4 linked regions of the Homo sapiens genome follow. The protein of the gene in region 1 purifies or fractionates together with the protein of each later gene. This does not show direct contact. Each region holds a gene or a part of one and is shown in the gene's direction. Other genes may lie near its edges.

Region 1 (3,500 bases):
ATGTAAACCTTGAACTCTCGGAACTACTTAGGAAGGACCCCGGGCTGTGATCTCTCACAACTACTTAGGGAGGACCCCGGAACCCCCTGGCTGCTCAGCTGGGTTCCAGCACCTGAAGGTGCTGTTGCTTTCCCCTGGGGCCCGTCCCCGAGATGAGAGGAGCACGTGCTGGAATTCCCTCTTTCAGGCACTTTCATGCTTTTATTTCTACACGTGGTGCTTCCCGCACAGCTGACAGCGCATGGTGGAGCCGAGTCGTGCGTTTCTGTCTGTGATTCGTCCCTCAGTCTTCCCCCGCTCCGGTGGGTTTGGGCTTGGGGTCCGTCCCTTTGACACTGGGACTGAGCCCCTCATTTCCATCGTAGCTTCAGCTCCATCAATAAGGTGTTTGTTTCTACTGTTGACAGGCACGTAGGTTGGCATTCTTTTGGTGTTTGCTTTGTCTTGTTTTGCTACTAACAAAAAATGCTCATTAAACACCCACCTCCAAGACTTCTATGAGAAGGTGTGAAGAGCCCACCCATTTTCCCGGGACCGTTTGGCCCTCTGTGACCCAAGTCAGCCTCGGCGAAGTGCTTTATTTTCTTGTTTTTTGTCGCTCCCTGTCACCCGCATGACCTCTGAAAGGTTGCACCCAGCCGGGCACGGTCACTCATGCCTGTAATCCCAGTTCTATGGGAGGCCAAGGCGGGCGAATCACATGAGGTCAGGAGATTGAGACCAACCTGGGCAACATGGTGAAACCCTGTCTCTTCTTTTTTTTTTTTTTTTTTTTTTTTTTTTTTTTTTTTTTTTTTTTTTTTTTTTGAGACAGAGTGTTGCTCTGTCGCCCAGGCTGGAGTGAGTGCAGTGGCGCGATCTCGGCTCGCTGCAAGCTCCACCTCCCGGGTTCACACCGTTCTCCTGCCTCAGCCTCCTGAGTAGCTGGGACTACAGGCGCCCGCCACCACGCCTGGCTAATTTTTTGTATTTTTAGTAGAGACAGAATTTCACAGTGTTAGTCAGGATAGTCTCCATCTCCTGACCTCGGGATCCCTCTGCCTCAGCCTCCCAAAGTGCTGGGATTACAGGCGTGAGCCACCACGCCCGGCCTAAATCCTATCTCTTCTAAAAGTACAAAAATTAGCCAGGCTTGGTGGCGCATGCCTATAATTCCAGCTGCCCGAGAGGCTGAGGCATGCGAATCCCTTGAATCCAAGAAGTGGGGGCTACGGTGAGCTGAGATTGTGCCACTGCACTCTAGCCTGGGCGACAGAGTAAGAGTCCCTCTCAAAAAAGAAAAGAAAAGAGGCCGGGCGCGGTGGCTCACGCCTGTAGTCCCAGCACTTTGGGAGGCCTAGGTGGGTGGATCACGAGGTCAGGAGATCGAGACCATCCTGGGTAACATGGTGAAACCCTGTCTCTACTAAAAAAATACAAAAAAAAACAAAATTAGCCAGGCGTGGTGGCGGGCGCCTGTAGTCCCAGCTACTTCAGAGGCTGAGGCAGGAGAATGGTGTGAACCCAGGAGGCAGAGCTTGCAGTGAGCCAAGATCATGCCATTGCACTCCAGTCTGGCTGACAGAGCGAGACTCTATCTCGAAAAAAAGAAAAGGAAAAGGAAAGAAAGGTCTCACTAGACAGTTTCAGGCCGGAATCTGTTTGCATTTGTACCGTCAGGAATTTCCAGCCTGGGAACAGTCAGTGACAGGAACGAACCGTGGGTGCCTCTGCAGGGGTGGCTCCTGCCTGGCTGCCCTTGAGTTGGCTGAGGAGCTGAGAACTTGGACTTCAGGATTCTCTGACTTCACTGGTCTGACGTGGAGCTCCCAGTGTTTGAATAAGAAGCGGCTGGGCGTGGTGGCAGGCGCCTGTAATCCCAGTTACTCGGGAGGCTGAGGCAGGAGAATCCCTTGAACCTGGGAGGTGGAGGTTGCAGTGAGCCGAGATTATGCCACTAAACTCCAGCCTGGGCGACAGATCGAGATTCCATCTAAAAAAAAAAAAAAAAGAATAAGCAGCCAGCCTCAGGCATTTACGCAGGGACAGGTGTTTACGTGGGGGGAAGATTAGATATCGCCTCCTCCTGCGGCCTTGGAGCTGTGGGGACAGGGATGCTGGGGGTGAGGACGGTTCATGGTAGTGAAGTCCTGCAGATTGGGAGGGGAATGGAGACCCCGGGACCACGTGGGCTCAACTGCAGGGACGGGACAGTCACCCACACAGAGCCGGGGCAGGGCTGTGGGAGCACAGGTCGGTGTGACGTTGGCTGGGGCTCAGCATGCGTGTCCCAGGGCTGGGCAGTTCCACTCCTGCACGTAGACACAGACGAGGATGCTCCTAGTAGCCCGTCCCAAGTGCTTCTTGCCAGAATGGGTCCATTTGTCCAGTGGGCTGCTGTGCAGTGATCGGACAGAGAACCCGCGTCCCAGCGCAGCTGCATGGAGAGGCCTTTGTTTGCAGTCGGCTTCTTGTTTAAGCTCTTTTAATTTTTTTTAACTTTTTTTTAATTTTTAGAGTCAGGGTCTTGCTCTGTTGCCCAGGCTGGAGTTCAGTGGCACAATCACGGCTCACTGCAGCCTTGACCTCTCTTGTTCAAGCAATCCTCCCACCCCAGCCTCCTAAGTAGTTAGGACTACAGACATGCACCACCATGCCCGGCTACATTAAAAAAAAATTTTTTTTTTTTGAGACGGAGTTTCACTCTTGTTGCCCAGGCTGGAGTACAACGGTGTGATCTCGGCTCACCGCAACCTCCGCCTCCCGGGTTCAAGCGATTCTCCTGCCTCAGCCTCCTGAGTAGCTGGGATTACAGGCATCCACTACGCCCGGCTAATTTTGTATTTTTAGTAGAGACGGGGTTTCTCCACGTTGGTCAGGCTGGTCTTGAACTCCTGACCTCATGATCCACCCTCCTCGGCCTCCCAAAGTGCTGGGATTACAGGTGTGAGCCATCGCGCCCAGCATTTTTTTTTTTTTTTTTTTTGACGGGAGTCTCGCTCTGTTGCTCAGGCTGGGGTGCAATGGCGCGATCTCAGCTCACTGCAAGCTCTGCCTTCCAGGTTCAAGTGATTCTCCTGCCTCAGCCTCCCGAGTAGCTGGGATTACAGGTGCCAGCCACCACACCCGGCTGATTTTTTTTTTGTACTTTTAGTAGAGACGGGGTTTTGCTGTGTTTGCCAGGCTGGTCATGAACTCCTGAGCTCAGGTGATCCGCCCACCTTGGCCTCCCAAAGTGCTGGGATTCCAGGTGTGAGCCACGGCGCCTGGCCCAGAACCTTAAGTTCTTGATGTACAGAGAACGGCAGCGTCAGTGAAGTGTGATTTCTGTTTTTTTGTTTCCACTAATTGTGAGCAAACATTAGGGTGGGGACTGGGCTGCTTGTGTGGGTCCCACAGGCTTCTTGGAGCACAGTGTCAGCAGAGAAGGGGAATGGGGGTCCTCATTGCGGGGAGCAGTTTTGCCTGGGATGCTGTGAGTTTCTCAGAGGGAAGCTAAGTGGACAGACTGTTCTGGCAAG
Region 2 (3,500 bases), on another chromosome or scaffold:
CAACAAATTCTGAGCAACTGCCTTTTTTCAAGAATTGGTCTCAGCACAATGGTTAAACTGGTGATTAAACAGATGAGTCCCTGCTTTATGAAATTTACATTTTCTACCTAGTGTACATTGTTCACTAACCCTAACATGAGTCAGAAATAACATGTAATAAAGAATGGCTTGGTTATATGCATTTTCTCAAAAGGAGATACATAGAAAACACTTAAAAGAGCCCAACCTAAAAATCTGTTACCTAAAGTAAGACATCCCATAATTTTCTTCAAATCAGTGGTTCTCAGCCTTGATTCTACATTAAAAGCACCTGGTAAGATTTAAAAAAAAAAAAATTCCTGTCATTACCTTAGACCAATTAAGCAGAAATTTTTTGGAAGCTAGACTCAAGATTCCCAGAAAATTTCATTGTGCAGCTGGAGTTTAGAACCATGGGTTTCATTTCATGTATGATAAAAGTCTTAAATTCAAAACAGCAGAAAACCTTTACATAGTTTCATTTTTCTAGAGATCAGTATTTATAAATAATTTTATTTTGTGACACTTGTCAGTAAGCGAACACATCTTATTTAAGTTCCAGTTTTTTAATGAGCTCATGCATTAATACTATTTTTAGTAATGCTGTTTGACTTTCTACTCTTAAACTAGTATATTGAAGGTCTATTTATACTTTGTTTAATTTAATAATAATGATCATTTTTAGGATACTGCTGGTCAAGAGAGGTTTAGAACATTAACTCCCAGCTATTATAGAGGTGCACAGGGTGTTATATTAGGTAAGTGTTTACTTTAATGTACTATTTAAAAATATTTATTGGAGTTTCTGATTGTCCTAGTCTGTGAAAGTTAATATGTCTTTGTTTTACTTCTCGTTAGAGCTACTTTTATGTAACTTGTAGTTGTATTAACTTCATGTAATATTAATGAATATTAAAACTTTTGATTTTAGTCTTGTCTAGCACTTAAAAAATAGACAAGGCTAATTTATTTGGTTTGAAAACACATGTCAATGAGAACGTAATTGAGGATTAATCAGCATATGTTGGACTGTCTTGGAGTATTACAGAAACTGGGCTTCTGTTATCAGCATATTAATATTTGCTGTAGTTTATAAAGGACGAAAAGTATTTGTTGATTAGTAGAATCTGCTTTATTAGTCCTAAAAATATCACAAAGCACTTAACACTATTGATTTATAATCAAACAAAATTTAGAAACCAGATGTGGATTCTCAGTGTAATTTGTTGAAAAGTGCTTGTTCTTGATATTCCTGGGAAACTGTTTAAAATGAATATTGATCAATTGTATTAATAGGTAGAATTCTCTTTTTTTAAATATTATGGCTTGGTAGTGACAGCCTTTTGGTTCAGCATCTCTTGAGTTTATAAAACACTTTAATAAGGTTTTTGTTATAATGCAGAATGACATAAGATGAAAGTGATAACAGGAAGACCACCAGGAACCCATCTACTAACTGTACTACAATTTTTTCAAAGCTGTAAATTTTGGTTCTTGTAATAAACAAATTAATGGGGTCATAGATGTTTACATTCATGTATTTTTTTTTTAATATTTTGCCACAGATTTGAATCTAAACACTCTGGTTTTTGGATAGACCTCATTCATCATTATGAATGGGAATAGCTGTTGTTTTGCTTTAATGGGTATTAAATGTGTTTTCACTTATTACACAGGATATAATTTCATTTCTGTGACAGTATATGTTAATAGGATTGAAATGTGTATGCTTTAAAAAAAAAACACTTGTTTCTTCCATTTGGATCAGTAGACACTCAATATTAATCGTTGAAGACAATAAAAAAAAGACTTGTCTATATTGCTTAGTAATGCTAACTCCTAGCTACATATCAGAAATACGCCATTGCTTCTTTCTTTAATGCTTATTTAACAAATGACTCCTTTTATTTCAGTTTATGATGTCACAAGAAGAGATACATTTGTTAAACTGGATAATTGGTTAAATGAATTGGAAACATACTGTACAAGAAATGACATAGTAAACATGCTAGTTGGAAATAAAATCGATAAGGTAAGAAGGCAGACACTTGGCATTTTGGTTCTATATTTTGGTAGCCTTTCTTAATCATTGCATTTATATTTTAGGAAAATCGTGAAGTCGATAGAAATGAAGGCCTGAAATTTGCACGAAAGCATTCCATGTTATTTATAGGTAGGTGTGTGAATGAATATCTGTCCTTTCATTATTAATGAGGAATTTTTGAATGGAGTTTTTGCCAAGTTTATTTCTTTATGAACCATAAAATGTGTTTAGAGTATTGTTCCTAGTTGCCTTGTGTTACAAAATCTAACTATATAACAAGGTTCTTTATTCTTCTTCCTGTAAAATGTATGATCATATTATGTGAAATCATATTAAAAAACAGTCAAATCATTCCTCACAGGATATAGTGGCATTCAGTAAAGTTTGGCACCCAGTGCTAAAGTTATGCCTTGCTGGTCCATATGCTGATACCATCAGCACCACCTGGGAGCTTGTTAGCAGTGCTTCAGCTCAGGCCCTACCCCAGATTTTCTGAATTAGAATCTGCATTTTAACAAGCTCTTCATATGGTTTGTATGCACATTAATTTTTGAGAAACATGGTCCAGCAAGAGTTGCCAAACTACAGCCTGGTCCAAATCTGGCCCCACCATTTGTATTGGTACACAGCCATGTCCATGTGTTTACATGTTGTCTGTAGCTGCTTTTGTGCCATATGGCAGAGTTTAGTAGTTACAACAGAGGCCATACGGCCCACGAAGCCTAAATATTTTCTATCTGGCCCTTTACAGAAAGAGTTTGCCAACCCCTCATCTAGAAAATTGGATGAGCTATGTCAGAATCACCTGGGCCCTGTGCCTTATTACAGGTTTGAAAGGCAGTTTATTGAAAGCACTCTAGTTGATTCTGATGTGAAGCCAGCTTTAGGAATTACGGATTTAACCATTCCATGGCGTTAGAAGCTACCAGGAATCTGCAAATGAAGTTGAGAGGACTTCATATATAGATAAAAACAGAATGGAATTAGTGGAAAGTATTGAGATTTTCAGAAAGGAATCGAGTACTTTTACTTGCTGTATGTCCCTCATTTCCATACATTAGTTTACCCAATATTTATTGAACACTCAAGATGTAACAGTGGACAAAACTGACAAACTTTCTGCCCACATGGAGCTTACATTCTAGTAAGGGAGACAGACTTAAATAAGTAAGTAGTGCTATGAAGGAAATAAAACATTATAAGGGGAGAGAGAATGACTGGAGTGGGGACTGCTTAGGGAAAGTTCTTAGAGGCTGTCCCATTTGAGCAGAAATCCCTCAGGTGAGGATCTAGAGCAAGCTTGTCCAACTCATGGGCTGCATGTGGCCCAGGATGGCTTTGAATGTGGCCCAACACAAATTTGTAAACTTCCTTAAAACATTATGAGATTTTGTGCTTTTTTTTAAGTTCCAGCTATCATTAGTGTTATTGTATGTTA
Region 3 (2,969 bases), on another chromosome or scaffold:
ATATGGTGAGGCGGCTATGTAGAAAATAGTGAGTGTGTAGGCTCTGAAGACAGATAGGAATATAAGGGCCATCCCAGAAATGCTAGTGTTTGGAAGAATTGAAATTGTACTTTCCCATTTATGGCTTCTTAACTTTTGTTTCAGTGATTGACATAAAACTGGAAAAGCCTCAGGAGCAACCAGTCAGTGAAGGAGGCTGTTCCTGCTAATCTCCCATGTCATCTTCAACCTTCTTCAGAAGCTCACTGCTTTGGCCCCCTTACTCTTTCATTGACTGCAGTGTGAATATTGGCTTGAACCTTTTCCCTTCAGTAATAACGTATTGCAATTCATCATTGCTGCCTGTCTCGTGGAGATGATCTATTAGCTTCACAAGCACAACAAAAGTCAGTGTCTTCATTATTTATATTTTACAAAAAGCCAAAATATTTCAGCATATTCCAGTGATAACTTTAAAAATTAGATACATTTTCTTAACATTTTTTTCTTTTTTAATGTTATGATAATGTACTTCAAAATGATGGAAATCTCAACAGTATGAGTATGGCTTGGTTAACGAGCGGTATGTTCACAGCCTACTTTATCTCTCCTTGCTTTTCTCACCTCTCACTTACCCCCATTCCCTATTACCCTATTCTTACCTAGCCTCCCCCGACTTCCTCAAAACAAACAAGAGATGGCAAAGCAGCAGTTCTACCAAGCCCATTGGAATTATCCTTTAATTTTACAGATACCACTTGCTGTAGGCTACGGACCAAGATGTCCAAAATTATTCTTGAGCACTGATATAAATTACGGTCTTCTTTGAGGTCAAAATTCAGCCATCATGGTAGGCAGTGCTTGAATGAGAAAAGGCTCCTGGTGCATCTTCAAAATGAGTCCTAAAGAACATACTGAGTACTTAGAAGTAGAAGAACATAAGATGTATTTCTGACTAAAACAAATGGCTCTTTCACATGTGCTTTATTAGACTCTGGGAGAGAAAATTAACCAAGTGCTTCAGAACAGGTTTTTAGTATTTAATTCTTCACGGTAAGAAAATGAAGTTCTAATGAACTGTTTCTCCCAAGGTTTTAAAATTGTCAAGAGTTATTCTGTTTGTTTAAAAAATAAGAAACCTCTTTAAGCAATAGATTTTGCTTGGGTTTTCTTTTTTAAAAACATAATACTGTGCAGGCAAGGCACTGTAAAAGTTTTAATTCCTTCCAGAAGAACCAGTGGAAGAATTTAAATTTGGCGCTACGATCAAAACTACTGAATTAGTAGAAATAATGATGTCTAAAGCTTACCAACAAAAGAACCCTCAGCAGAATAACAAAAACTTTGCTCAGGACATTTGAGGTCAAATTGAAGACGGAAACCGGAAACCGTTTTCTTGTAAGCCCCTAGAGGCAGATCAGGTAAAGCATACATAGTAGAGGGAAAGGAGAGAATGGAAATAAAACTCAATATTATGCAGATTTATGCCTTATTTTTTAGCATTTTTTAAGGTTGGGTCTTTCAGGCTGGTTTTGGTTTGTATTAGATCTGTATAGTTTAATTAACTGGTGATTTAGTTTTATATTTAAGCTACAATTAATCTTTTTTCTTTGGTGATATTTATTTCTTTGCCTTTTTTTTTTTTAACAACTTTCAATCTTCAGATGTTTCGTTGAATCTATTTAGAGCTTCACCATGGCAATATGTATTTCCCTTAAAACACTGCAAACAAATATACTAGGAGTGTGCCCTTTTAATCTTTACTAGTTATTGTGAGATTGCTGTGTAAGCTAATAAACACATTTGTAAATACATTGTTTGCAGGACGAAAACTTCTGAGTTACAGCTCAGGAAAAGCCTGCTGAATTTATGTTGTAAGCATTACTTAACACAGTATAAAGATGAAAAGACAACAAAAATATCTTCATACTTCCTCATCCCCTCATTGGAACAAAACCTTAAACTGGGAGAACCTTAGTCCCCTCTCTTTCCTCTTCCTCCTCCACTTCCCACTTATTGTCACCTTGTAATATTCAGAGAGCACTTGGATTATGGATCTGAATAGAGAAATGCTTACAGATAATCATTAGCCCACATACCAGTAACTTATACTTAAAGATGGGATGGAGTTGTAAAGTGCTTTTATAATACAATATAATTGTTAAAGGCAAGGGTTGACTCTTTGTTTTATTTTGACATGGCATGTCCTGAAATAAATATTGATTCAATATGGCAGATGGGTCATATTCTTTATTTGGAAGAAGTTGTGACTTCTGACATGGGTGTGATTGTCTTCCTACACTGTTGCATTTGATTCTTTTTATGTATTTTTAAGAAAGTAACCAGTTATACTGCTTTTAATATTGATTGGTCTTTTTATTTGGCTTGGAGTTCTTCAAAGCATTGAAGTGTGTTCATAGTCCAGGTTTTTTTTTTAATAAACACAATTTTGCTGCCAAAAATATATAAATAAAACACGAAAGAAAACAATTATTGACCTGGTTTCCCATTCCTGCCAAGATGGTGAATTAGCATTTACTTCTCCCTCTCTGGGAAGACCTTTAAAGCAGACATGGACAGAATCCAGAAAAATAACAACAACAAATGTGAGGAACTCCTAGGGAGTCAAAGACTCTTTTTTTGATGGGGGTATTGTTGGGGGGTGGGGGAGAGGGGCTGCAACTTGAAAGATACATCCCCTGGTGGAGGCAGTAATAGGACATATTAAGAAAAGCATCTTAAGTTCTGCTTTTGCGTCCTCACTCCTAACTATACCTTTGCCTTGGGACAGGAGCCAGCAAACTGTGGCCCTCCCACCAAATGCAGCCTGGAACCAGTTTTAAAAATTAAGTTTTATTGGAACTCAGCCATACTTTCCCACTATAATGGCAGAGCTTAATAGCTGCCACAGACCTTATGGCCCTAAAACCCAAAAAACTGTTTACTATCTGGCCCTTTACAGAGAAAAGGGCAACCCCTGCCTTGGGACA
Region 4 (3,500 bases), on another chromosome or scaffold:
TCTTCAGCCTCATTCAGCAAAATAGGAGTCTTCAAAAGACAGTCCTGGCCGAGTGTGGTGGCTCACGCCTGTAATCCCAGCACTTTGGGAGGCCGAGGTGGTTGGATCACCTGAGTTCAGGAGTTCGAGACCAGCTTGACCAACACAGTGAAACCCTGTCTCTACTAAAAAACAATACAAAAATTAGTCGGGCTTGGTGGCGCATGCCTGTAATCCCAGCAACTAAGGAGGCTGAGGCAGAAGAATCGCTTGAACCTGGGAGGCGGAGGTTGCAGTGAACTGAGATTGCACCACCGCACTCCAGCCTGGGTAACAAGAGCAAAACTCCATCTCAAAAAAAAAAAAAAAAGTCCTACTTTACGCTTCTTTTAATAAGGCTAAAAAGATATGTGGCCAGTCTCTTAATTAAATGCAGTATGACAGTGCTTCCTTGAATCATATTAATCCATATTGGAAGTAATCTTATGTCTGCTAGTCACATGGTGAAATCTGACATCTCACAAAATCTGGTCCTGAATTTTTATTTGTCTTCTGCATGTCTCCACTGAGTTGTGAGGCCTCACATGTGTCACTGCCAGTGTGTTGTGAGTTTTTTCCACACAGCCTTCAGCTGCTTATTCCATTCCACTGTAATCCTTATATTTAGTTATGATTGTCCTCAAAATTACCTACAAATTTGACTCATCTATTTCATATAGGAAATGCTATATCGCTTAAAAGTTTTAAAAGCCTTTAAAGAAGACTAAGTGCTTAAAGGCTTTGTTATTCTTAAAAGGTTAGCCAGTTTTCAGAAGGAAAACTTCTTCAGACCAGCAAAGTGTTTTTTGTGTGTGTTTGCAGTATAGGTGGGGCGGCGGGGTATCGTATGTTTAGTAAAATCAAAAGCTTTTGAGAGATCAAGTCCTTGATGTAGAAAAGTCAGCCTTCAAAAAACAGTACTGTCCAGGTAGATAATCTTAATTGTGTCAAAGAACACTATGATTAGGGAAACAAAGTGTCTGGTAAACAGCCTCTACAAAGACAGACTTTGTTCTAAGTGAGAGTTAAGGAAGAAAGAATATAAGCTTTTAATTGATATTTGTTTTCCTTCAGCCAGTGGGCTGTTTACTTACAGCAAATACCAAGTGATTGCAGGGGTTGGAAGTGATAGATTAATTTACTCACTACTCACTGTATTAAATTGTATACACCAACCTGGGTTTTTTTGTTTGTTTTTGTATTTGACTAATTGTTTCTGACTTTACAATTTCAGTCTTGGAACTTTGCCTTCCCGGCTTCTTTGGTTTACAGGGTTGAAAAAGAAAGCAAAAGTATCTAACGACCTTTGTAAAACATCTTTTAAGTGAGAACCTTTTTCATAAGGCAGTTGTTTCCTCAGTGGGTAGATGGTTTTTCCTGTAATCTGGCATTGTGTAAGGAAATAAGAAGCAGCTTGTCTTTGATTCTTGGTGTGATGGCATGAAAAGTAAATGTTCTGGTGGGATCCCCAAACGTGTTAGTAGGCCGCTATATTATAGCTGTTGTTTATTAGATTAGTATCATTTGAGGGGCTTTTCTGTAGAAGATTTAATTTGAAGATTTATCTTTCAAATATACTTTGGCTTTTTCACTTTTATTTTTTAGGCTGTGCGTGTTACAAAACCCAAAATCCCAGAAGCCATAAGAAGAAATTTTGAGTTAATGTGAGTAATATGCATGGGATCCCAATATTTCTGTTTAGGGCTGTCTGCATATTAATATTCCAGTCTAGAGGAAACATGTGAGACAATACACTCTGGGGTGGAGTATGTGTCTTATCTTCTTTACTCTTACTCTAGTAATATTGCCTATTCTTGTGTCTTAATTCCCACTAGACTCTTACTAGTGTTCTCTTTATGTATGGACATTTCAGGAGCAGTTTCAGTGGCTAAAGATGCAGTTTGCTGTAAAACTATTGCTGGAAGCTTAAGGAGCTATAATTTTATATGAATAGTACCTTGAATTAAATATTTAATAGAGGAAAGAGTCCTGAAGCCGTTAGGGTTGAAGAGAGTGCTCATATTTTGTTTCTGTGTTGTAATGGTAGGAATAGATACCTTGTTGGTATAAAGTTTGGTTTTCCATTGTATGTGATTGTATATCTAAAATTAGACCTGGTTCTTTATAATGTGCCTCTAGGGAAGCCTTGCTTCTGTTGACTCCTGGTAGTCTTCTCTTTTATGTATCCAGGGCTGACTGGGAATGAGAAGACATGAAATTAGTTTCTGACAGGATCCCTTTTAGGGGAATACTTACTGTGTTTGAAATGGCAATATTGTTTTCGTATGACTGGTACTGAAAAGAAGAAATAAAAGTCTTTAGGAAATTTGGCTGATGTGTTAAAAGGGAAAGTATAAGACGCTGGAAAAATAAATTTGCACAAGTCAAGGATACCACAGATGTATAAATACTGGAAGTCCAAGGAGCAGTAATACTACTTTATGAGGTTGTTTACTTCTGAGTCCTTTTTGTTACCATGCAGATTTTTATTGTTTTTTTCTTCTTTTATATTTTCCTTTTCCCTCATACCTTCTCTGAGCTCATACAGAGTTTTATTTCTCTTTTTCTTAATTTTTTTTTTTTTGAGACAAGGTCTTGCTCTGTTGCCCAGACTGCAGTGCAGTGGCACAATCACGGCTCACTGCAGTCTCAACCTCCCAGGCTCAAGTGATTAAGCGATCCTCCCACCTCAGCCTCCTGAGTAGTTGGGACTACCAGTGCATGCCACCACACCTAGCTAAATTTTGTATTTTTCATAGAGACGGAGTTTTGCCCTGTTGCCCAGCCTGGTCTCAAACTCCTGGGCTCAAGCAGTCCTCCTGCCTTGGCCTCCCAAAGTACTGGGATTACAGGCTTGAGTCACCACACCCAGCCTGTTTTCTCTTTTTCATTGTAGACAAAGAACTCTTCTTTTAAAAGTATAAAATGTAGACTGCCAGGCTGGGTAGATTATGGATGTGATCCACTTATTGAAAAAATATTTATAGGCGGGCTGTGGTGGCTTATGCCTATAATCATAGCACTTCAGGAGGCTGAGGCCGGCGGATCACCTGAGTTCAAGAGTTTGAGACCAGCCTGGCCAACATGGTGAAACCCTGTCTCCAGTAAAAATAGAAAAATTAGCTGGACATGGTGGCAGGCACCTATAATCCCAGCTACTGGGGAGGCTGAGGTAGGAGAGTCGCTTCAACCGGGGAGGTAGAGGTTGCAGTGAGCCGAGACCACGCCATTGCACTCCAACCTGGGCAAAAGAACGAAACTCTGTCTCAAAAAGAAAATTTTATTAAACTGTCAGCATGTCTTAGGCTTTAAATATGATTGCTTAGGCTGGGTGCGGTGGCTCATGCCTGTAATCCCAGCACTTTTGGGAGGCCAAGGTGGGCGGATCACGAGGTCAGGAGATCGAGACCATCCTAGCTAACACAATGAAACCCCGTCTCTACTAAAAATACAAAAAATTAGCCAGGCATGGTGGTGGGCGC

The links.
Region 2: the proteins of SLC35E2B (region 1) and RAB18 purify together in Homo sapiens (affinity purification with mass spectrometry; one large-scale study listed by BioGRID and IntAct). This does not show direct contact.
Region 3: the proteins of SLC35E2B (region 1) and RAB6A purify together in Homo sapiens (affinity purification with mass spectrometry; one large-scale study listed by BioGRID and IntAct). This does not show direct contact.
Region 4: the proteins of SLC35E2B (region 1) and ERLIN1 purify together in Homo sapiens (affinity purification with mass spectrometry; one large-scale study listed by BioGRID and IntAct). This does not show direct contact.

Annotation. Positions count from the first base shown.
Region 1 is NC_000001.11:1,679,296-1,682,795, reverse strand, and holds part of SLC35E2B (solute carrier family 35 member E2B), read left to right. Parts: intron 1-3,500. UniProt on the Homo sapiens protein: Putative transporter.
Region 2 is NC_000010.11:27,531,804-27,535,303, forward strand, and holds part of RAB18 (ras-related protein Rab-18), read left to right. Parts: intron 1-703; coding exon 704-776; intron 777-1,931; coding exon 1,932-2,050; intron 2,051-2,124; coding exon 2,125-2,191; intron 2,192-3,500. UniProt on the Homo sapiens protein: The small GTPases Rab are key regulators of intracellular membrane trafficking, from the formation of transport vesicles to their fusion with membranes.
Region 3 is NC_000011.10:73,675,138-73,678,106, reverse strand, and holds the end of RAB6A (ras-related protein Rab-6A), read left to right. Parts: intron 1-144; coding exon 145-209; 3' UTR 210-2,469; downstream 2,470-2,969. UniProt on the Homo sapiens protein: The small GTPases Rab are key regulators of intracellular membrane trafficking, from the formation of transport vesicles to their fusion with membranes.
Region 4 is NC_000010.11:100,165,530-100,169,029, reverse strand, and holds part of ERLIN1 (erlin-1), read left to right. Parts: intron 1-1,623; coding exon 1,624-1,682; intron 1,683-3,500. UniProt on the Homo sapiens protein: Component of the ERLIN1/ERLIN2 complex which mediates the endoplasmic reticulum-associated degradation (ERAD) of inositol 1,4,5-trisphosphate receptors (IP3Rs).